Homo sapiens: one gene and its partners. The protein of the gene in region 2 interacts with the protein of the main gene of each other region in a pairwise test. Each region holds a gene or a part of one and is shown on either strand. Other genes may lie near its edges.

The links. Proteins that work in one complex are often made in the same cells at the same time.
Region 1: the proteins of KATNBL1 (region 2) and ZNF329 interact in binary tests that used the Homo sapiens proteins (3 or more experiments, as listed by UniProt).
Region 3: the proteins of KATNBL1 (region 2) and POLR3C interact in binary tests that used the Homo sapiens proteins (3 or more experiments, as listed by UniProt).

The regions. Positions count from the first base shown.
Region 1 is NC_000019.10:58,147,764-58,155,328, reverse strand, and holds the start of ZNF329 (zinc finger protein 329), read left to right. Parts: upstream 1-4,539; 5' UTR 4,540-4,577; intron 4,578-7,565. UniProt on the Homo sapiens protein: May be involved in transcriptional regulation.
Region 2 is NC_000015.10:34,151,064-34,158,359, forward strand, and holds part of KATNBL1 (KATNB1-like protein 1), read right to left. Parts: intron 3,622-7,296; coding exon 3,581-3,621; intron 2,007-3,580; coding exon 1,727-2,006; intron 1-1,726.
Region 3 is NC_000001.11:145,826,930-145,834,225, reverse strand, and holds part of POLR3C (DNA-directed RNA polymerase III subunit RPC3), read right to left. Parts: coding exon 7,221-7,296; intron 5,478-7,220; coding exon 5,389-5,477; intron 967-5,388; coding exon 862-966; intron 753-861; exon of another isoform or gene 737-752; coding exon 644-736; intron 1-643. UniProt on the Homo sapiens protein: DNA-dependent RNA polymerase catalyzes the transcription of DNA into RNA using the four ribonucleoside triphosphates as substrates.

The DNA.
Region 1 (7,565 bases), on a different chromosome or scaffold from region 2:
GGTCCCTTCAAGGTCGGCGCCAGGTATCCTCCCAGAAAACCTGCACACCGCAACGCCCAGCACCCCCACAGCCTCCCTGCTGCCACTGGGGGGCGCCATCGTCGCGGCTAACGCAACCCGAGGGCGGAAGCGGTGGAGCGCCGCGCCGCGGGGTTTTCTGGGAGATGTAGGCGGTGGAAGCACACTCATGCGCAGCAACGGCGCCGCAGTGGGCGCTCATGCGCAATGGAGGGTCCGGCGTCCGCCTTGGCGGGTGGGAGTGATGACCTGCACTCCCCAAACCACTGCGGGATAGAACGGGGCCGAGTGCTCTCAGGGGTGGCCGCTACCGGGGCGGCCCGAGACACGGCTGCGGGTTCCAGCCAACAGGCCCGGAGTCGCGGCCTCGGCTCCGCCGTGGGTGCACGGGCTAGGGCTGCGGGGACTCCTGTGGGCTCCGCGTCTGCGGCTGGGAGGAATGGGGATCGTCCCCAGATCCCGCCTTCCGGGCAGGGCCTCCGCTGCCTGCGATCCTGCCCACAGTCCAAGGATCCTCCTCGCCTCTCGCGGACTGCGGTGTCAGCCGCCCGAGCCGTTCCCCGGACACCTGGCCAGGTGACGGCCCCCGACCTCCGCCTGGGGCGGGGGGGGGGGTGGTCTGCGAGTCCCCCTCACCCCCAGCAGACGTTCCCGAGCTCAGAAGGAAAAAAAGGACGAGGAAGGGGCTGCTTATGAGTGTGTCGGTGTTGATTTAGTAGTTGTGGAATGTGAGCCCTGGGGAAATAAGTGGAAGAGGCATGGACCGTGTGGCTCCACTGGGGCGTTCGCGAATGCCTCCTGGAGGAGGAGACCAACCAGAAAGAAGAGGCAGCGTCCAGCAACTGGACAAAGGCCAGAGGGCCTTTCTGGCAAGAGGACTGGGGTGAGCAGAAGCTGATCCGGCTCTTTATCCCTGGGCGCAAGTGCTGTGTGGCATAGGTCAGTGAAGGCCTGAAAGGGATGTTGAGCCAGCAGCAAAAGGCCTTGAGTGCCCCATTAAATAAGTTACAGCTGTGGCTGACGCCTGTAATCCCGGCACTTTGGGTGGCCCAAGCGGGCGGATTGCCTGAGCTCAGGGGTTGTAGACCAGCCTGGCCAACATGGTGAAACCCCGTCTCTACTAAAAATACAAAAATTAGCCGCGCGTGGTGGCACGTGCCTGTAATCCCTGCTACTTGGGAGGCTGAAACAGGAGAATCGCTTGAACCGGGGATGCAGAGTTTGGAGGCTGCAGTGAGCTGAGATCACGCCACTGCACCCCAGCCTGGGCGATAGAGCAAGACTGTCTCAAAAAAAAAAAAAAATCACATATGTTGGCCAGGCAGGGTGGATCACGCCTGTAACGCCAGCACTTTGGGAGGCTGAGGATTACTTGAGCCCTGGAGTTTGAGAGCAGCCTGGGTAAAATAGTGAGACCCCATCTGTACTAAAAAAATTAGCCAGGCATGGTGGTGTACACCTGTAGTCCCAGCAACTGGGGAGGTCGAGATGGGAGGATTGCTTGAGCCCAGGAGGTCAAGGCTGCAGTGGGCTATGATCATGCCACTGGACTACATCCTGGACAGCAAAGCAAGACCCCATTTCTAAGAGAAAAAAAAAGTGCCATTTTGTAAATGACTTCTGGGATGCTTATCTTGATGTAGAAAGTCTCCTACCCCAAGAACAAACAGATAATTCCTGAACAGGGATTGGCAAACAATGGCCTCAGTGGGCCTTCTGTTTCTGTAAAGTTTTATTGGAATGCAGTCACACTTGTTTGTTTAGTATTATCTATGCTGCTATCTGGAAGAGTTGGGTAGTCATGGCAGAGACCTTATGGTCTGCAAAGCTGAAAATATTTATTATTGGGCTTTTCACAGAAAAAGATTGCCTACATGTGACCTACAAGAATATACACTTGTGGCCAGGCGCAGTGGCTCACGCCTGTCATCCCAGCACTTTGGGAGGCTGAGGTGGGTGGATCACCTGAGGTCAGGAGTTTGAGACCAGCCTGGCCAACAAGGTGAAACCCTGTCTCTACTAAAAATACAAAAATTAGCCGGGTGTGGTGGTGTGCGCATGTAATCCCAGCTACTCTGGAGGCTGAGGCAGGAGATTCACTTGAACCTGGAAGGTGGAGGTTGCAGTGAGCTGAGATCTTGTCACTGCACTCCAGCCTGGGGGACAGAGTGAGACTCAGTCTCAAAAAATACAAAAAAGAATATACACTTGTGCCAGCACAGTACTTAGCACTAAGGATTTCTCTTTGCCACTGAATGGAAAAAACACCCTTGTTATTATTAATGATGTTATGCTTTATTGTTAACTTTATTACTAGATTATTACTTTTACTCATCTCTTCTTGCATACTCTTCTATTCTTCTGATATTTGTGTCTGTATTAGTGCCTATTTGAGCCCATCTGCTTAATATGGTACATTTTAGTATCTAATAAAGGGTGCCTGACTTTTTTTTTTGAGACGAGAGTATAGCTGTCACCCAGGCTGGAGTGCAGTGGCACGATCTCAGCTCACTGCAACCTCCGCCTCCAGGATTCAGGCAATTCTCCTGCCTCAGCCTCCGGAGTAGCTAGGATTATAGGCACCCGCCACCACCCCCGGCTAATTTTTGTATTTTTAGTAGAGACAGGTTTCACAATGTTTGCCAGGCTGGTCTTGAATTCCTGACCTCAAGTGATCCACCTGCCTCGGCCTCCCAAAGTGCTGGGATTACAGTTGTGAGCCACCGCGTCCGGTCTCCGACTGTTCTTTTAACCAGATACTGTTGGACTTTTCTCCATATGATCTTTAAGTTGTTTTATTCTGTGAGCTGGGGGCGGGGGGAGTCTTTGAATTGGAATTGCTATACTTTTGTTTAGTAGTTTTGTGAAGATTTTTTTTTTTTTTTTGAGACCGAGTACTAGGATTGCAGGCATGAGCCACTGTGCCCAGCCAATTTTTATATTTTTAGAGATGGGGTTTCACCATGTTGGCCAGGCTCATCTTGAACTCCTGACCTCAGGTGATCCCCCCAGCCCGGCTTCCCAAAGAGTTGGAATTACAGGCATGAGCCACTGTGCCTGGTCTGATACGGCCTTCATGGAGAAATTAAAAAAATACTTTCCATTCAGGAATAATATGTCAGTGTGTTCTGAACTTAACTTCAGGTCTGTTAATGAGGTTTTTGTATTTTCTTCATGAAGATCCTTTATTGCTTTTGCTAATTGATTTCCAAGTTGCTCCAACCATCACTATTGTGAGTGACAATTTAATCACTATTATGGCTTAGAATTTTTTTTCTAATTTTCATTTCAAAATTGTGAAGTATTTCAACCTGCGGAGAGGTTCGGAGAGTAATAGAATAATCTATAAATAATAAAGATGACACCCATGTATCATCGAGATTTTACCTGTGTTAACATGTAGTCAGATTTTCAGGTTTTGATTTGTTTTTTCCTATCAAGCATCACAGGTGTAACTGAGGTCTCCTTTGTCTCCTCCCCAACTCTTTCCCCTCAGTTGCCACTTTCTTGAGGTTGGACAATCTATCTGGTCCATGTTATTGTTACTTTACTACTTATGTATCAATCTCTGTATAACATATAGATTTTGTGTCTTTTATTTCCAGGTAAGTTGTATCATGTGGATAAGTGCACAGTTTACTTTTCGAACTGTTTTTGGAGAACTGTCTATCTTGTATATAAGTTAGTCCTTTTTTTTTTTTTTTTTTTTGAGACGAAGTCTCCCTCTTGTCCCCCAGGCTGGAGTGTGATGGTACGATCTCAGCTCACTGCAACCTCCGCCTCCCAGGTTCAAGTGATTCTCTTGCCTCAGCCTCCCGAGGAGCTGGGATTACAGGCGCCTGCCACCACGCCTAGCTAATTTTTGTATTTTTAGTGGAGACGGGGTTTCACCATGTTGGCCAGGCTGGTCTCAAACTCCTGACCTTAGGTGAGCCCAGTCCGTTTGTTTTAACCACCCCCTATTGCTCCGTTGCACATACCACAGTTTCTCTCTTCCCTGTCAGTAAATATTTAGGCTTCCCCATGCTAAAGTTTAAGAGAACCACTGAAAGAATGAAAATGTGTAGTTTTCATTTTCAACCGGCTATTGTTACTACAGAGGAAAGTTACTGGCTTTGTTTACATTTCTTAGATCTAGTCATTTTAACAAATTAGGCCTCCCAAAATGCTGGGATTACAGGCGTGAGCCACGCACCCAGTAAATAATTATATTGCCAATGAATAATGAGTGTACTTATTCTGAATTTTAACATTATTATCTCAAAAAAAGATTATAGATAAAGAAATATTTTAGGAAATTATGCAGTAAATAAAAGGAAGGCTCTATAACAAAAGAATGATAGCATCGGGTTAAAAATCAGAGGAGACCATAGGAGAAAGTAAATGCCTGCGCGTCCGCCCCGAGGCAAGTCCACGCCAGGGTAATGAATAACCCGGTACCCGCGGCCGCCCCAGCGTTGGGCGGGGGAAGCTCGGGGACTCCGCGCACGCGCACATCCTTGTCCCGGCAGCCGCGCAAGCGCAATCGCCCGGAACATGGCTGCCGCCGGCCGCCAACCGTAAGTGCCGACGCATCCCTGAGCCCTGCGCTGCCTCCGTTTCCTGCGGAGGGAAGTCTTGGCGGGTGGAGGTCCGCCGGGTCCTTGTGGGGCGGCGAGGGGCGCGTCCGCGGGTGGGTTTCACCTGGGTGGTGGGCATGTCGGGCCCGCTAGGGCGAGGGTCTGGCCAGGGGCGTAGTTCTCCTGGTGGGTGGGGACGCTCCGTGGCGATTGGGGTCACTCCTCTGAGGACGAGGTCGCTCCGGGGCTGGTCTGGACGCCCCCGCTCTTTCCTTAGCGTCACCCGTGAGTTCCGCGCTCGCATCTCTAGCCCGCCCTCCCATAGAGACTGTTTTGCCACGCCTGCTGGGTGTCCTGGTCCGTCTCCGGGGGTAACCCCCGAGTCTGCAGCTTTTCTGTCAGGTGTGAGGGGCAGTGTAGGCTTGGGTCGGCCTCCGGCTGAATTGGCGGCCGTGAGCCAGTGGGCTGAGCCGCTTCCCCTTGAGTCTCGAAGGTGTTAGATCACCTGTGTGTTTTTCCATTTGATATTTGCAAAATCATGTTTTACTGCAATTCTCAGTGAGGGCCGCATTTTTGCACGTGTTTAGTGACCATTTTGCTGTCTTTTCCCTTGGTTTAGTGGCATATTTCCTTTGTGCAGTCTTCCAGTCTCAATATTTTATGACATAAAATGTTGGTTTAGATAGAGAAGCTGAAAGACTTGTGCAGTGAACGACCCGGTTAACGTCTGCTGAACTTACTGTATCCCTTATCTTTCCTTCTGTCCATCCTTTCAGCCATTCATTAATCCACCTATTTTTGGAAACATTTCAAAGTAAGTTGCAGATATCACAACACTTCTCCCTCAAACACCTCACTATGCTTACCATGAATTAGAGTTCAGTAGTGCTTTTTTAAATTTTTTGAGCCAAAATTGACTTTCAGTGAAATGCACAGATATTCCCTGTACCATTGATGAATTTTGACAAATGCAACCTAAACCTTTATTAAAATTACCATCAGCCTGAAAAGGTCCTTTATTTTTTGCCAAGTTAAAAAATTTGGCTATAGGAACTTGGGCTTGTTGAAGTACGTTTTGAATACCCAGTTTTTGTCTGTTTTTTCTTTTTTCCCACAGCAAGTGACTTTCCTCCATTCTACTGCTTGTTTACCTCTCTCTTCACCCAACTTTTCATTTTGAAAAGTTCCGCATTTGCATAGAAGTTGCAGGAATAGTTTAACACTTCTAAAACCATCCAGATTCTAAAATTATTAACACTTTTTGCCACATTAGCTTTATCTTTATCTTCTCCCTGCCTGAGACACATGCATAGGTGTTACCAGAAAGGGGGTCCCGAGCTATAACCCAACAGAGGGTTCTTATATCTTGGGAAAGAAAATTCAGGGCGAGTCCATAGAGTAAAGTGAAAGCAAGCTTATTAAGAAAGTAAAGGAATAAAAAAATGGCTACTCCATAGATAGAGCAGCCCCAAGAACTGCTGGTCGCCCATTTTTATGGTTATTTCTTGATTATATGCTAAACAAGGGGTGGATTATTCATGCCTACCATTTTTAGGCCATATAGGGTAACTTCCTGATGTTTCCATGACATTTGTAAACTGTCATGGTGCTAGTGGGAGCAGGACCAGAGGTCACTCTCGTTGCCATCTTGGTTTTGGTGGGTTTTAGCCACCTTTACTGCAAGCTGTTTTATCAACAAGGTCTTTATGACCTGTATCTTGTGCAAATCTCCTGTGTTATCCTATGACCTAGAATGCCTTAACTGTCTGGAAATGCAGCCCAGTAGGTTTCAGCCTTATTTTACCCAGTCCCCATTTAAGATGGAGGTTTGCTTTGGTTCAAACGCCTCTGACATAGGGTTTTCTTTTTATATTTTACACACACTTGTACACACAGCAGGTGTTGCAGAGGCAGGTGTGATACAGACATATATTTACATACACTTAGTTTTTTTGGCTGAGTTACTGGAAGTATGTTATAGATATCATACCTCACTCTGAAATACTTCAGCCAGGATCTCATAAGAAAAGTAACGTTCTTATTTTTTAATTTTGTATTTTTTATAGAGATGAGATCTCACTATGTTGCCCAGACTGTTCTTGAACTCCTGGTCTTAAGCAGTCCTCCTGCCTTGGCCTCCCAAAGTGGTGGGATTACAGGTGTGAGCCACCACACCCAGCCAAAAAGAACATTTGAACATTTAAACAAAACTAGTGTTATTATCACACCCAAGTATACTTTTTTTTTTTCAAAAAACTAATTGTTTTTTATTTGTAATTTTTTTTTCCTGCCAATCTGAACCTGGAAAAGAAGAAACAGGGAAATTTTTTACCTTCCTCTCTTTTTTTTTTTTTTTTTTTAATTGATCATTCTTGGGTGTTTCTCGCAGAGGGGGATTTGGCAGGGTCATAGGACAATAGTGGAGGGGAGGTCAGCAGATAAATAAGTGAACAAAGGTCTCTGGTTTTCCTAGGCAGAGGACCCTGCGGCCTTCCGCGCAGTGTTTGTGTCCCTGGGTACTTGAGATTAGGGAGTGGTGATGACTCTTAAGGAGCATGCTGCCTTCAAGCATCTGTTTAACAAAGCACATCTTGCACCGCCCTTAATCCATTTAACCCTGAGTGGACACAGCACATGTTTCAGAGAGCACAGGGTTGGGGGTAAGGTCACAGATCAACAGGATCCCAAGGCAGAAGAATTTTTCTTAGTACAGAACAAAATGAAAAGTCTCCCATGTCTACTTTCTGCACAGACACGGCAACCATCCGATTTCTCAATCTTTTCCCCACCTTTCCCCCCTTTCTATTCCACAAAACCGCCATTGTCATCATGGCCCGTTCTCATTGAGCTGTTGGGTACACCTCCCAGACGGGGTGGTGGCTGGGCATAGGGGCTCCTCACTTCCCAGTAGGGGCGGCTGGGCAGAGGCGCCCCTCACCTCCCGGACGGGGCGGCTGGCCGGGTGGGGGGGCTGACCCCCCCCACCTC
Region 2 (7,296 bases):
TGAACATACGCATACATGTGTCTTTATGGTAGCATGTTTTATATTCCTTTGGGTATATATCCAATAATAAGATTGTTTTAAGTTCTTTGAAAAATTGTCGCACTGCTTTCACAATGGCTGAAACTAAATTACATTGTCACCAGCATTGTATAAGTGTTCTTTTTCCACAACCTTGCCAGAATCTATTATTTTTTGACTTTTTAATAATAGCCATTCTAACTGGTATGAGATGATATCCTGTTGTGGTTTTGATTTGCATTTCTCTAATGATGAGTGATTTTAGGTTTAGCATTTAGGCTGAGCATTTTTTCATATGCTTGTCACCTACATGTATGTCTTCTTTTGAAAAGTGTCTATTGTGTCCTTTGCCTACTTTTTTTTTTTTTTTTTTTTTTTTTTTTTTTTTGAGACAGAATCTCACTCTGTAACCCAGGCTGGAGTGCAGTGACAAGATCTTGGCTCACTGCAACCTTTGCCTCCCGGGTTCAAGCAATTCTTGAGCGTCAGCCTCCCAAGTAGCTGGCATTACAGGCGTGCACCACCACGCCTGGGTAATTTTTGTATTTTTGGTAAAGATGGGGTTTTGCCATGTTGGCCAGGCGAGTCTTGAACTCCTGACCACCTGCCTTGGCCTCCCAAAGTGTGCCACCATGCCTAGCTAATTTTTGTATTTCTAGTAGAGATGAGGTTTCGCCATGTTGGCCAGGCCCAGTTTTAGAATATTTCTATCACTCTCAAAAACGCTTTTGAGTCTGTTAACCAGTTTTGCTTGAGCCAGAAGAGCAGCAAACCACAGCAGGTTTGCCTGAACTATGCTTTAACCAGGCAATATTGAGAGCCCGGCAAAATGTGTCTGGATAACTGGCTTCGGTGGTCCACTTTTTTTTTTTTTTTTGAGATGGAGTCTTGCTCTCTTGCCCAGGCTGGAGTGCAATGGAATGATCGCGGCTCACTGCAACCTCTGCCTCCCAGGTTCAAGTGATTCTTCTGCCTCAGCCTCCCAAGCAGCTGGGATTACAGGCACCCACCATCATGCCCGGCTCATTTTTGTACTTTTGTAGAGACAGGGTGTTTCACCATGTTGCCCAGGCTGGCCTCGAACTCCCGACCTCAGGTGATCTGCCTGCAGATGTTGTCCTTTTTATTTTTATTTTTTTGAGACGGAGTCGCTCTGTTGCCCAGGCTGGAGTGCAATGGTGTGATCTCAACTCACTGCAACTTCTGCCTCCCGGGTTCAAGCGATTCTCCTGTCTCAGCCTCCTTCTGAGTAGCTGGGATTACAGGCGCCCCCCACCATGCCCGGCTAATTTTTGTATTTTTAGTAGAGGCAGGGTTTCACCATGTTGGCCAGGCTGGTCTCAAACGCCTAACCTCGTGATCCACCCACCTCGGGCTCCAGGCGTGAGCCACTGTGTCCGGCCTAGTGCTCCACTTTTTTAGGCAAGATTTCTCCTTTTCCCTTCCTTTAAATCTCTACTGGCTAACTTGTCATTCTGGATAGTTTTAGCAGCCTGCTAAGCATTTCATCCCATCTTAGAGAAATGGAATAAATTATTAATTCAAATTTGGTTAATCTAGAAAATTGTCTCAGGGAGTTACTATGACTCAAATAAGTCTACATTCAATAGGTGACAAATTATTCTGCTAGTGGAATATGGCAAAGAAAAAAATCAAGATTATAACAGGAACAAAGTTAAACTAGATATGAGTTAGAGAAAAGACTTACCTCAGAAAAAAACCCACTATATTTTGATGATGGGCTTTCTGTCTGTGAAGAACCAGAATCACTGGAGTTAACCAAATATGTTCGACTATCATGGTGTAATTTTTCAGGCAGGTGGCCTGCACAAGCCAGTTCATTTTCTTTATTTGCCATGTCACAGCCCCCACTTCCAGGGGACTGTTTTTTTCTGTAACAAGGATTTGGAAAGGGATGATGAACTTTCTTTCTGCGATAGATCACTTTACGAAGTTTATCTGGGCTTTTCACAGTTTGTCCAACTGTTCTGTAAAAAGAATTTATTTTCTTAAATGAAAAAGAACCATATGAAATCCTTTAAAAGTTTTTAAACAGAGAATTAATAGGCTATATTTGGTGATTGTAATCCACTAAAATTAGAAATAAATAGAATTTTAAAAATCTTAATTCTGAGTTGAAGAGAAAAGTAAAAGGGAAATTACAAATTATCTGGAAGACAATGTAAAGGATGACATTTTATGCCAAATAAAAATGAAGACAGACATAATAACCAGAATGCTTTTAAAAATGAAATATTAAAGGCCATTCTGGGAGTAAGAAGACCACAACATTTTCTAGAAACCTGATCTTTTTCTAACAAAGTGGCAAATAAGACTGCAAGTGTGAATATTTTAAAATTTAATTAAGCTGAAGTATATTGATTTATTTGAGTAAGAACACGATAGAGCAAGCCTCATCGTTTAATACAGTGGTTCTCAAACGTTTTAGTGTCACGATGCTTTGCTCTCTTAAAAATAATTAATGACTCAAAAATTTTTTTTTTTTTTGAGATGCAGTCTCTCTCTGTTGCCAGGCTAGTGTGCAGTGGCACAATCTCAGCTCACTGCAACCTCCACCTCCCAGGTTCAAGTGATTCTCTTGCCTCAGCCTCCTGAGTAGCTGGGACTACAGTCGCGCGCCACCATGCTGAACTAACTTTTGTATTTTTAGTAGAGACAGGGTTTCACCCTGTTGGCAAGGATGATCTTGATCTCTTGACCTCATGATCCACCCACCTTGGCCTCCTAAAGTGCTGGGAATACAGGTGTGAGCCATGGCCAAAATAATTTTTATGTGAATAGTATCTATTGATATTTACTGTGTAAAAACTAAAACAAAATTTAAATCATTTGTTAATTCATTCAAAAAAAGACTAATTACATATTAACATGGAATATCTTACCCAAAACCCATATTTTCTAAAATAATTTTTTAAAAAGTGAGAAGAATGGTACTGTTTTACATTTTTATATATCTCTAATATCTGGTTTAACAAAAGACAGCTGGGTTCTCATTTCTGCTTCTCCATTCAATCTACTGTGATATCAAATGGCATATAGCTTCTTGAAAAATTATATTGTACCCTCAAACAAGAGAATGAAAATGAAGACAGTCAATGTCTTAGTATTGCTATGGAAGTAATTCTGACTTCACAAATTCCATGAATGGTCTTTAGGGACCCGCAGGTCCTCAAATCACACTTTGAAAACCAGTCGTTTTGTAGAAAGTGCCTTTAGAAGTTAGGCAGATCTGAGAATGAATGTCATTCTTACCACTTTTCTAGCTATATGATTCTGAACAAATCATTTAACTTATCTGATCTTAAGTTTTCTCATCAACTGTTAGGGTTAATGTTATCTATAGAGTAGGCTATAGAGTAGGACTGTTGTAAGGAGCAGAGACAATATTGATGTGTTTATTAGTGCAGATACTGGCATAAAGAAGCTGTTTGACAATAAGTTAATTATTATTATGATAAAAGAATGCTTATTTTTCCCTTATTGTCATCCTTACCCAGCTTTCATATTTGTTGTTCCCCACAAACTTTAAAGAAACTCTTACCTATTTATGTAAGCAGCCAACTGTTTTGGAGATTTCTTAACCTGAAAAATGAAAGTAGATAGTTGATGTTAGAAACAAATGCTTGGTGCCGCAAAGAAGAATCAGCACTCCGGCAAAAAGCTTTCTCAGCAAGGCAATTTACTTCTGCAGAAGGGTGCCAATCGTGCCTGGAGTGGTCGCAAGAGCATACCGGGCATGGGAGGAGAAGGGGTTCTTATCCCTAATGCAGCTAGTCCCTACTACTGTGTCATTCCCCTATTGGCTAGGGTTGGACCGCACAGTCTAAACTAATTCTGATAGGCTATCTGGGTATGAGGCAGAGTGGCGGGGTGAGCAGTTTAGGCAGGAAGGATGGTTACAGTGCAGGTGACTAAGGATGACTAAGGACAGAGCAGGTGACTAAGGATGACTAAGGACTCTAAATATGTGAGTATAAAGGCTAGAAGGGGGTTGTTTACTGAAACTAGGGCAAGGAGGTGTAAAGAATGAGGAAGTTAAACTTTAAAATGGAGAACAAAGTATAAGAAAGCTGAACATACTGACATACTGGTTCCCAGAGGAACTCAGAACTCACTGTACTTAACAATATCCCCCTTTTGAATTTTACAGGTCTTCCTCTTCAAATTTCTTTAACATGTCTTGGCATAGCTGTTCTGCTTGGTTTTCTAAAAGAAAGAGCTTGTCAGAATATGGTGGAGGGGAACTGAGAGAAGTTTTAGTAAGGGCTGTTTCTGTATGTCTTTGGACTAGCCCACGGATGCGAGGTATGATGCAGCATCCAACAAGGATAAGCACTACTGCTACAATTGCAAGAGAAGTAAGGATGGTGGCTGTGATCCCTTTCCATTTACCAAACCATTTTTCTAGCCACCCTGTGAAGGGGTCATTTACTCCTGAGTTTTTTGCTAACTCATTGGACAGAGCAGTTAGACCTTGCAATGCCTTTGTTATACTTTCATCAGGGGCGGTATTGTTTGGGATGAAGGTACAACACTGAGTTTTAATCATGATGCAAACTTCCCCTTTTTCTGCTAAAATCATGTCTAAGGCCATTCTATTTTCCCAAGCCATCTGGCTAGTAAGCCCTAATTGCTCAGCTATTCCTTTAACAGCATCTCTAGTATAGTTAATAAACCGCTGTTGGTTGTAATAGGTGGAATTTATCTAATCTACGTTTTTATTAATTGTCACCCACCAAAATATTGACTCAAATCCAGCAGCTATTTGATCTCAGGTCTTAAATTTATTTGGTACTCCTCGTGGGACTCTAATTGCATCTAAATAAATGTGGGAGTCGAAAGACCCATAAGGGGCTTCCCTTGCTTTATGACATTGTGTTTTTTTCTTTCTCTGGTTGATGAAATGCCAGGGTGAAAGGGATAGCCAACTGCACTAGGGCGCAAGTGACACTCCAGTTACTAGGCAGAGTGTCCAGCAAAGGTCTACCACAATATCACCATACATCTGCTCGGGGGTGTATAAGGGCTGACTGGTTGGTGAGCTCTTGGAAAGTCTTAAGCTCACCGCATCCTTTTAGGTCTCTAAGGGATGCTAAGTTTCCTCTTTGTCGTGAGAGACACAAAATGAACTCAGTGTCGGGAGACAGAAGCTGGATGGCCCTCGGGGGCTAACCTGTGGGGTCTTGAACTTCGGGATATAGCAGAGAAAGAGCTTGGCACGACTTGTTACCCCAGGCTGTGGAATCCTGGAAAAAGAGCTACCATACAGCCCATGCCTGGTTGACTGGAGGACCATCATAGTGGAAAGGGGACAATCTGGCCCTCTGGCCTGCCATGCGCACGAGCATAACAATTGCTTTTGTTTAAAGTGCGGATGAAATATTTTATCTATTCTAACCAGGCATTGGCATTTTGATATCCCGTCTCAATTGCTAAAGTTTCTTTTAGGACTTTGACTTCTACAATAGCTACCTTCGTCTTGTCATTAGATGGAGGAAGAACAACAGTTTTGTTGTGGGAGGTTCTGGAAGAAGGCTTAGGGGAAGGTGTAGGCGGTGGGGGAGCAATGAAGAATATTTCAAAGGATCTGATAGGGTCTGCTCCTGAAACCTCAGCCCCCATATTATAAAACTGGCTTAAAGAAGGAAATTGGCTTAGAGAAGGGGAAGAACTTAGAGGGTTTGAGATAATAGCCTGTACTGGATTGTACTGATTTAGCTGACAGTTAGGGGAAGCTGTTCCTTTAGTAAAATGAATGTATAGCTTTAGGAAATTACAACTACTGCTTGGGGCAATCTATTCTTGCTCTTTAGTGGTCCACAGAATGTTGGACCAACTACAGCATAAAAGCTTTGTATTGGGAAGGCAAGACTCTCAGTTTATACTGGAATCTCCGTCAAACTCTTCCCAAGCTAACTTATCCCAGTTAACAGAATTCCAGTCTGAGAAGAGCTAGGAAGGACAAAGATACTTTTCTGAAGTGGAGAGTTGCCTCTGGCTTGGCACATCTCCACAGGGCATCACAAGGCAAGCATCAAAGGTAATAGTTTGGGGTGAACTCGACCTAGTTACATTAATAACAAGAGGACTAGCAATAGATGGGGAAAAGAAGAGATGCAACATAAGAGGATCAAACCCGTTTTAGCTTTAGCTTGGTTAGAGTAAGCCCTAGAATAGCTGCCCATGATTCTGGAGGAGGTGGTGCTCTTTTGACCTGGGTGTGATGAGTCCATCCCATTTCTGCTGTTTGAACTGTGGTCTCAATGGTTAGAAGCACTAGGCAGGGTCCTTCCTAAGCTGGTTCAAGTTTTCCTTCCCTCCAACTTTTGACAAGGATGTGGTCCCTAGGCTGATGTTGGTGTACTGGAAACTCTAGGGGTGGTGCCTGTGCTAAAAGACCTTTAGTTCTGAGGCAAGAGAAAGTGGAAGATAAACTTAAGTATATAATTTCTGAGAAACTGATCTTTTGTTTCGAACATGGGAATGTCAGCAGCGGAGTGCAAATAGAGCAACTTACACAACATTTCATAAGGGGATAAGCCAACATCTCTCTGAGGAGCAGTTCGGATTCTCAACAGGGCAATGGGAAGGCATCTAGTCCATGGCAACCGAGTCTCTAAGACTAATTTGCTTAAGTGGCTTTTTAGAGTTTGGTTCATTTTTTTCCCCACTCTTCCTGATGAAGGTGGGTGCCAGGGAGTATGATTTCCCATGTTATATCCAGTACCTGGGCTAATTTCTTAATGACATGTGCAATGAAATGAGTTCCATTATCTGAATCAATGTTTCCTATTAATCCAAACCTGGGTATAATATTTTCAACTAATGTTTTGACTACATTATTAGCAGTTGCACTTGAAAGGAAATAGCTTCTACCCAATGAGTAAGGTGATCTACTATTACTAATAAATATTTTAGACAACCAATTTGGGGCATCTTGGCGTAATCAACTTGGATACTTTGGAACAGTCTTAATTCCAGATACCTTCCCCTAAGAGGTGGTTTTCTGAGGGTCTGCTTATTAGTCATCCTAAATACTAGGCAACTATCTGTAACCTGTCATGTCAAAGTGTAAATTGCTACACATCCATAAACCCAAAGGACTGCATCACACATAGCTTGAGGTCCCCAATGAGTCTCTTGATGCAGATGAGAGAGGTCTCTCATAAGGGAATTGGATAACATTTTTCTTTGGTCTGGTAACACCCATTTCTCTTCTGAATTTTCTTTGGCCCCTATTTTTATTAATTTCTCTTT
Region 3 (7,296 bases), on a different chromosome or scaffold from region 2:
TACCATATTTTTACTGTACCTTTTCTGTGATTAGATGTTTAGATACACAGATGCTACTGCGTTACAACTGCCTACAGTATTCAGTACAGTAACATGCTGTACAGGTTTACAGCCTAGAAGCCATAGGCTATCCCGTTCAGTCTAGGTGTGCTGTAGGGCTACACCATCTAGGTTTGTGTTAAGTACACCCTATGATGTTCACACAATGATGAAATCACCTAACGACACATTTCTCAGAATGTATCCCTGCTGTTAAGTGATGCATGACTGTATTACTATGAAAGTAATATAAATAACACATATTGGATATATTAAATATCGATATTTTAAGTACAGGGGGTCAAATAATGTCCTGAATGCCAAGGCTCTCAGAGTCCAAATTGTGGATTCTTAAAATAATTAGGAATAGGCTGTACTTGACGAATAGATACTTTGACTAAGTGAATAGTGTAGATTTTTAAAAGCTGGATCCTAAGAGACCAAACATTTCAGTGCTCATCACTTGAAGATAATCCCTGCTCCACATCAAATGCCCTTCTCTTTCAAGGCTCAGACCTCAACCCAAACTCAGGATCTGTGTATAATAAACGTTGATAACACCCAAGAATCTGTCAGAAAGTTAGTGCAAGAACATGAAACTCACCTCATTGGAAGACAATGGCTGGGTGAAGGGAGCACTAGAGGAAGTGGTAATCTCACTCATTCGGAGCATGGTTCGCACAATCTCGCTGCTTGTCTGTTTGAAAAGTAAACTAGAATTCAGAAATCACAGTGCTGCCCCTGGCTCTATGTGCCAATGGCCATATCTGACAAATAAGTAAATGTCCCTGATGACCAATGACAGACCCACTTAGGTATTACCTGGTCCATCCTGTTAGCAACTGCGCTCACAATGGCTTGGTCACGGAAGTGTTGGTGGAATCTGTCAAGGTTGGCCTGCCAATAAATCCCATCATCTGGAATGGGCTGAGGAAAAGATTTAGAGAAACATTTAGCTATAGTGTAAAGTTTTCTGGTGAGGAGCTTGGATTTAATGGTTCACCATTTCTTTTCCTACACAGTAACAATTACATTGGTTGGAAAAAAATCATTCAGTCATGTAGACTGGTGTCTAGACAAATTCCGACTTCAAACAGGTTTTCTAAGCTCATCTCCAATCTTTCTCTCCCTATTTTATTATTTAACATTTATTTTAATTTTTTTCTGAGACGGAGTTTTGCTCGTCACCCAGGCTGGAGTGCAGTGGCATGATCTCGGCTCACTGCAACCTCTGCCTCTCGGGTTCAAGTGATTCTCCTGTCTCAGCCTACTGAGTAGTTGGGATTACAGGCAACCACCACTGCGCTAGGCTAATTTTTGTATTTTTAGTAGAGTTGGGGTTTTACAATGTTGGCCAGGCTGGTCTCGAACTCCTGACCTCAGGTGATCTGCCTGCCTCGGACTCCAAGTGCTGGGATTATAGGTGTGAGCCACCACATCCGGCCTTTCTCTCTCTATTTTAACTCTTCTCCATTACTTTCAAGTCTCCAACTTGACCCTTCTTCCTTCTCACTCTCGGCAGATGACTTTGCCTCTCATTTCACAGAGAAAATAGAAGACACTAGGCCAGAACTCACTCAGCTCTGTGCACATCCTCACCACATTTCTTTTTTGTTCTTGATTCATATTTTCACTCACTTTTATCACAGCTGAAAAATGCTCCTTTTACCTAAGGTTAATGCCCATATTGGTATTCCAAATCTTACTCTCTCATTCATTCTTGGGGATCCAGCTCTATTTTACCCTGTCCTCTAACATCTTCAGGCTTTCCTTCTCTACCGCCTTCTTATCAGCCTTTACCCTGTCCAAGTCTCTTTCTACTCTAGAATTCTCTTTCAACCCTATGCCTTCTCTTCTTTTCCTTAGTGTCACAGCCAAGCTTCTCAAACAGTTGGCCATCTCAGTTGTATCTCTACCTAGATTTACGCAACCCATTTCCACTATTGTACTGAAATGTCAATTGTCACTCGCATTCCAGTGAAATTCCACAACTGTCCTTAAGGATTCTATGTTGTTAAGTTCAAATAATAATTTCCACTTCTGATCTTATTTAACCTTTTGGAAGCATATGACATGGTTGGACATTTTTTCCTTCTTAAAACTTTATGTGGCTCCTTGGTTTTATGACACCATTTTTTTTTTCCTTTTAAAGACAGGGTCTTTGTCACCCAGGCTGGAGTGCAGTGGTGTGATTGTAGCTCACTGCAGCCTTGACCTCCCTGGGCTCAGGTGATCCTCTCATCTCAGCCTCCCAAGCAGCTGGGACCACAGGTGCGTGCCACCACGCTTGGGTAATTTTTGTATTTTTCTGTAGAGACGGTCTCACCATGTTGCTCAGGATGGTCTCAAATTCCTAGGCTCAAGCGATCTGCCCGCCTTGGCCTTCCAAAGTGTTAGGATTACAAGTGTGAGCCACTGGGCCTGGCCGACACCATTTTTTCTTGGCGTTACTTTGAACCTTTCTGGCTACCTTTCCTCAGTATCCACAGATTCCTCTTTCAGATCCCAACTGTAATCCTGGTGTTTTGTCAGGGTTCTGTCCATACCTTTCCTTTCTTTTTACTCTACATGCTCTACTTGGGTAATTTTATCTGCTCTCCAGGCTTCAACTATTGATGCATTTCCAAATCTGTTACTCTATCCTAGAACTCTCTCTTTTTTTTTTTTTTTTTGAGATGGAGTTTTGCTCTTTCGCCCAGGCTGGAGTGAAGTGGCACAATCTCCGCTCACTGCAACCTCTGCCCCCCAGGTTCAAGCGATTCTCCTGCCTCAGCTTCCCAAGTAGCTGGGATTACAGGCCTGCGCCACCATGCATGGCTAATTTTTGTATTTTTAGTAGAGACGGGGTTTCGCCATCTTGGCCAGGCTGGTCTCGAACTCCTGACCTCAGGTGATCCACCTGCCTCTGCCTCCCAAAGTGCTAGGATTACAGGCATTACCGCACCCGGCCTATCCTGGAACTCTCTATTATGCTCCAGATGCATAGACTCAGCTGCCTATTTGACACTTCCATTTGTTCCCCAAACTGTTCTGTTTTGTAAGTTTTCAGGTAACTACACTATAACCAACCCAATTTTTTTTTTTTTTTGAGACAGGGTCTTGCTCTGTTGCCCAGGCTGTAGTGCAGTGGCACCATCATGGCTCACTGAAGCCTTGACTTCCTGGGCTCAAGTGATCCTCCCACCTCAGCCCCTGAGTAGCTGGGACTACAAACATGTGCCACCAGGTCTGGTGTTTTTTTTTTTGGTACAGATGGGGTCTCACTATGTTGTCCAGGCTGGTCTCAAACTCCTGGGCTCAAGTGATTCTTCTACGTCAGCCTCCCAAAATGCTGGGATTACAGGCACGAGCCACTGTGCCTAGACAACCCAATTTCTTTTTTTTTTTTGAGATGGAGTCTTGCTCTGTCACCAAGGATGGAGTGCAGTGGCGTGATCTCAGCTCACTGCAACCCCTGCCTCCCAGGTTCAGGCCATTATCCTGCCGCAGCCTCCCAAGTAGCTGTAATTACAGGCACCTACCACCATGGCCGGTTAATTTTTGTATTTTTAGTAGAGACGGGGTTTCACCATGTTGACCAGGCTCATCTCGAACTCTGACCTCAGGTGATCCACCTACCTCGGCCTCCCAAAGTGCTGGGATTACAGGTGTGAGCCACTGTGCTTGGCCAGCCAACCCGATTTCTTAAGCTACAAACTTGGGTATCACCCCTAGTCCCTTGCTCTCCATAATCTACCACCCCATTACCAAGTTCTATCTATTCTTTATATTTATCAGATGTCTACTTTTCTTTCTCCTATCATTACCTTATTTCAGACTCTAAATCTTGGCCCATCTGGATTACTACAATAGCCTCCTAACTGGGTTTTTTTTTTTCCCTTTAAAACATAGCAGACACTATAAAAGGAGTAACTGGGTTTTCTCCTTCTAATTTTGTTTTGCATCATTCTTCCCATTTCTTAGAGTAGTGCTTTTTTTTTTTTTAAACTGTTTTGGGTCACAGTTCCTTTGAAGAATGTAATGAAAGGTACGGAGAGCTTCACTGAAAAATGCACGTAAGTATAACTGGACTCTCTGAAATCCATCCATGGAGTAGAACAAGTTAGGAACTGCTGTGCTATAATAATCTTTCTAAAATATAAATCCAGTCACTTCATTTCCCTGCTTAAAATCCATCAATGGCTCTCCTTTGCCTTCAGGATAAAGCCCAAACCTCTTAGACAAACATGTACACAAATAATAAATAATTCCAGTTATAAATATAAATGCTGTGAAGTATATGAAATGAGAAATGTGGTAGGAACTAGTGTAGGAGTGGGCAATGGTGCTTGAAGTCTATGAAAACAGCATTTAAGATAGAAATGATAAAAACAGAGACCACTACATGAAGATCTGGGGACAAACATTTGAAGCCGGAGCCAAAGTCTAAAGACCAGAAAGAGTTTGACATGTTTAAGAGATAAAGTCAGTAGAGGGAACACAGTGAGTAAGATGGAGACGGGGCAGAGGTGAGGTTGAAGAGCCCTGTCTCCAGCAGATCATACGAAGACCTAGATCACGTAAGGCTTCCTAGCCCGTACCTTGGATTTCTTCTAAAAGTAAAGGAAAGCTATTAAAGGAGTCTAATCAGTGGATGTGTTGTTTTGTTTTGAACAACTTAGAAAGTCATTTTGGCTACTAAGTAGGTAAGAATGCAGCTAGGGAGACCATTAACGAAAGCGTTTGCAAAGAGTTGAGAGATGGCAGTGAAAAGATGAGAAATGGTTGGATTTGAGGTAATTTTGGAAACTGGGCTGATATGTTTTACTGTGAGATTAGAGGGTTCCAAGGATTTTGGCTTAAGCAGAAATGGTGGTGTCCTAGGCGGCTGGCCTACGTGGTAGTGTCTTTTACTAAGATGAGGAAGTTTATGAGGGAGCAAGATATTTGGGAGGAGGAATCAATTATTCTGTTTTGGCCACACTAAATTTGAGATGCTTACTGACATCTTTATAGGTACGCTAAGAAGGCATTTGAATATGAGTTCAGGCCTATGTATAGTTTTTAGACCCATTTTTCATCACTGGCCCCTGTAGGTCTTTAGGTTCTCGCCATATTGAGCAACCTAAACTTTTTCTAGGCCCCTTTTTACATAAGCTGTTACCTCTGTTCAATGAAAGAATTAAGTTAAGGCTCAGAAGGGAGACAGTAATGGTTCATTCTTTGTTAGTCTATTCCTAATATTTAATGAGGTTCATAATCCTACTGCTTCTTAGCTCAGGAAGCTTTAAGCTCTCTTGGGGCTTGTTATCTGAGTGCTCTTTCTGGCCTGCTTCAGGGTGAGGACTTCTAATCAAGAAGCCCCATTACCTCCTTGTTATCTGTAGTATATTTTGGTCTCTTGGCCTTGGGCTCCCCAGCAGCATCTTCATCAGATGATCTCCTCCTTTTACCTTTCCCTGCCAAACAAACAATTAAACACTTAGACTATATCTCATATGATGACAGGAAATGACCAAACATGAGAGCAGGTGTCTTTCATTCCAAAGACATCTGTAGCTGCCTCTAGATCAGAGTTGCTTAGGGGGCTGAAGAGCTATAAGAAACTCAAGTAACTGATGAAATAATCTGAAACTCAACATGTTCAAAAAGAGTCTTATAGTCTTTCTCCTCCAATGCTCTCTTTCATGGCCAGTGATATCATCCTCCCACATGTGCAAGTCAGACACACAGATGTCACTCTTAGTACTTGTTTCCTTCACCCTCTCTCTTTCATTTTCCACCAGTCTGTCAACATTTACCTTTGCCCCATTCTCCCATCCTTTCTGTAGACAAAAAATCTTTTGAAAGTGCAAATTAGATCATGTCATTTCCTTAAAAATCCTTCAGTGGTCTTCCTTTGCTCTTAGCATAAAGAACAGATGCTCTATAAGGTCTTACTTGATTCAGCCCCTGCCTGTCTCCCATCCAAGTACTAAGCAGGTTGATCCTGATTAGCTTCTGAGATCAGACCCCTGCCTAGCTATGTCTCTAACCTTACCTCATGCCTCTCTTGCTTTGCTTACAATGCTTTAGCTATACTGACATTCTTTCATTTCCTCAAATGCTATTTTTTTACTACATACTATTCCCTCTGCCAAAAATGCTTTTCCTGTTACCTCACTGTTAGCTTCTACTTCAAATCTTAGCTCAAATGCCACCTTCTCAAAGAAACATGAGGCCTAAACTCCCAGATGAATCCCGTCTCTCGTTATATATTTTCTTTTCTTTTTTTTTTCCCGAGACAGAGTCTCACTCTGTCACCCAGGCTGGAGTACAGTGGTGCAATCTTGGCTCACTGCAATCGCTGTCTCCTGGGTTCAAGCAATTCTCCTGCCCCAGCCTCCCGAGTAGCTGGGATTACAGGCGTATGCCACCATACCTGGCTATTTTTTTTTTTTTTTTTTTTTGAGACGGAGTCTGGCTCTGTTGCCCAGGCTGGAGTGCAGTGGCACGATCTCGGCTCACTGCAACCTCCGCTTCCCGGGTTCATGCTATTTTCCTGCCTCAGCCTCCCAAGTAGCTGGGACTACAGATGCCCGCCACCACACCCAGCTAATTTTTTGTATTTTTAGTATAGACGGGGTTTCCCGGTATTAGCCAGGATGGTCTCGATCTCCTGACCTCGTGATCCGCCCACCTTGGCCTCCCAAAGTGCTGGGATTACAGGCGTGAACCACCATGCCCGGCTACCTGGCTAATTTTTATAATTTTAGTAGAGATGGGGTTTCAACATGTTGCCCAGGCTGGTCTCGAACTCCTGGCCTCATGCAATTCGCCTGCCTCAGTCTCCCAAAGTCTCCATTATATATTTTCATAACACCTCATACTTTTCCTTCATGGCACTTATTACAGTTTAATTATATACTGATGTGATTTTCTGATTAATGCATGTCTCATAATACTATGACAGTTCCTTCATAGGAATATTTCCTTCATAGTACTTATCACCGTTTAATGATATATCGATGTGATTTTCCGATTAATGTATGTCTCCTATACTAAAGCCCCATGGCAGAGACCATGATTTTTTCATTGTTATACACCACGATGTCTGGCACATAGCAAATACTTGGTAAATACAATCACATTTCATACACTTGACAATCAAGAAGAATCCACAATTAAGGCAAGTCACAGTTCCAGGGGTTAAAATTCCTTACCTATCAAGCTGAGTTTAGGAACCAGGTACATGTCCTTTTCATTAATGACAAGTGTGGGGGCAGGTGGTGGTGGCCC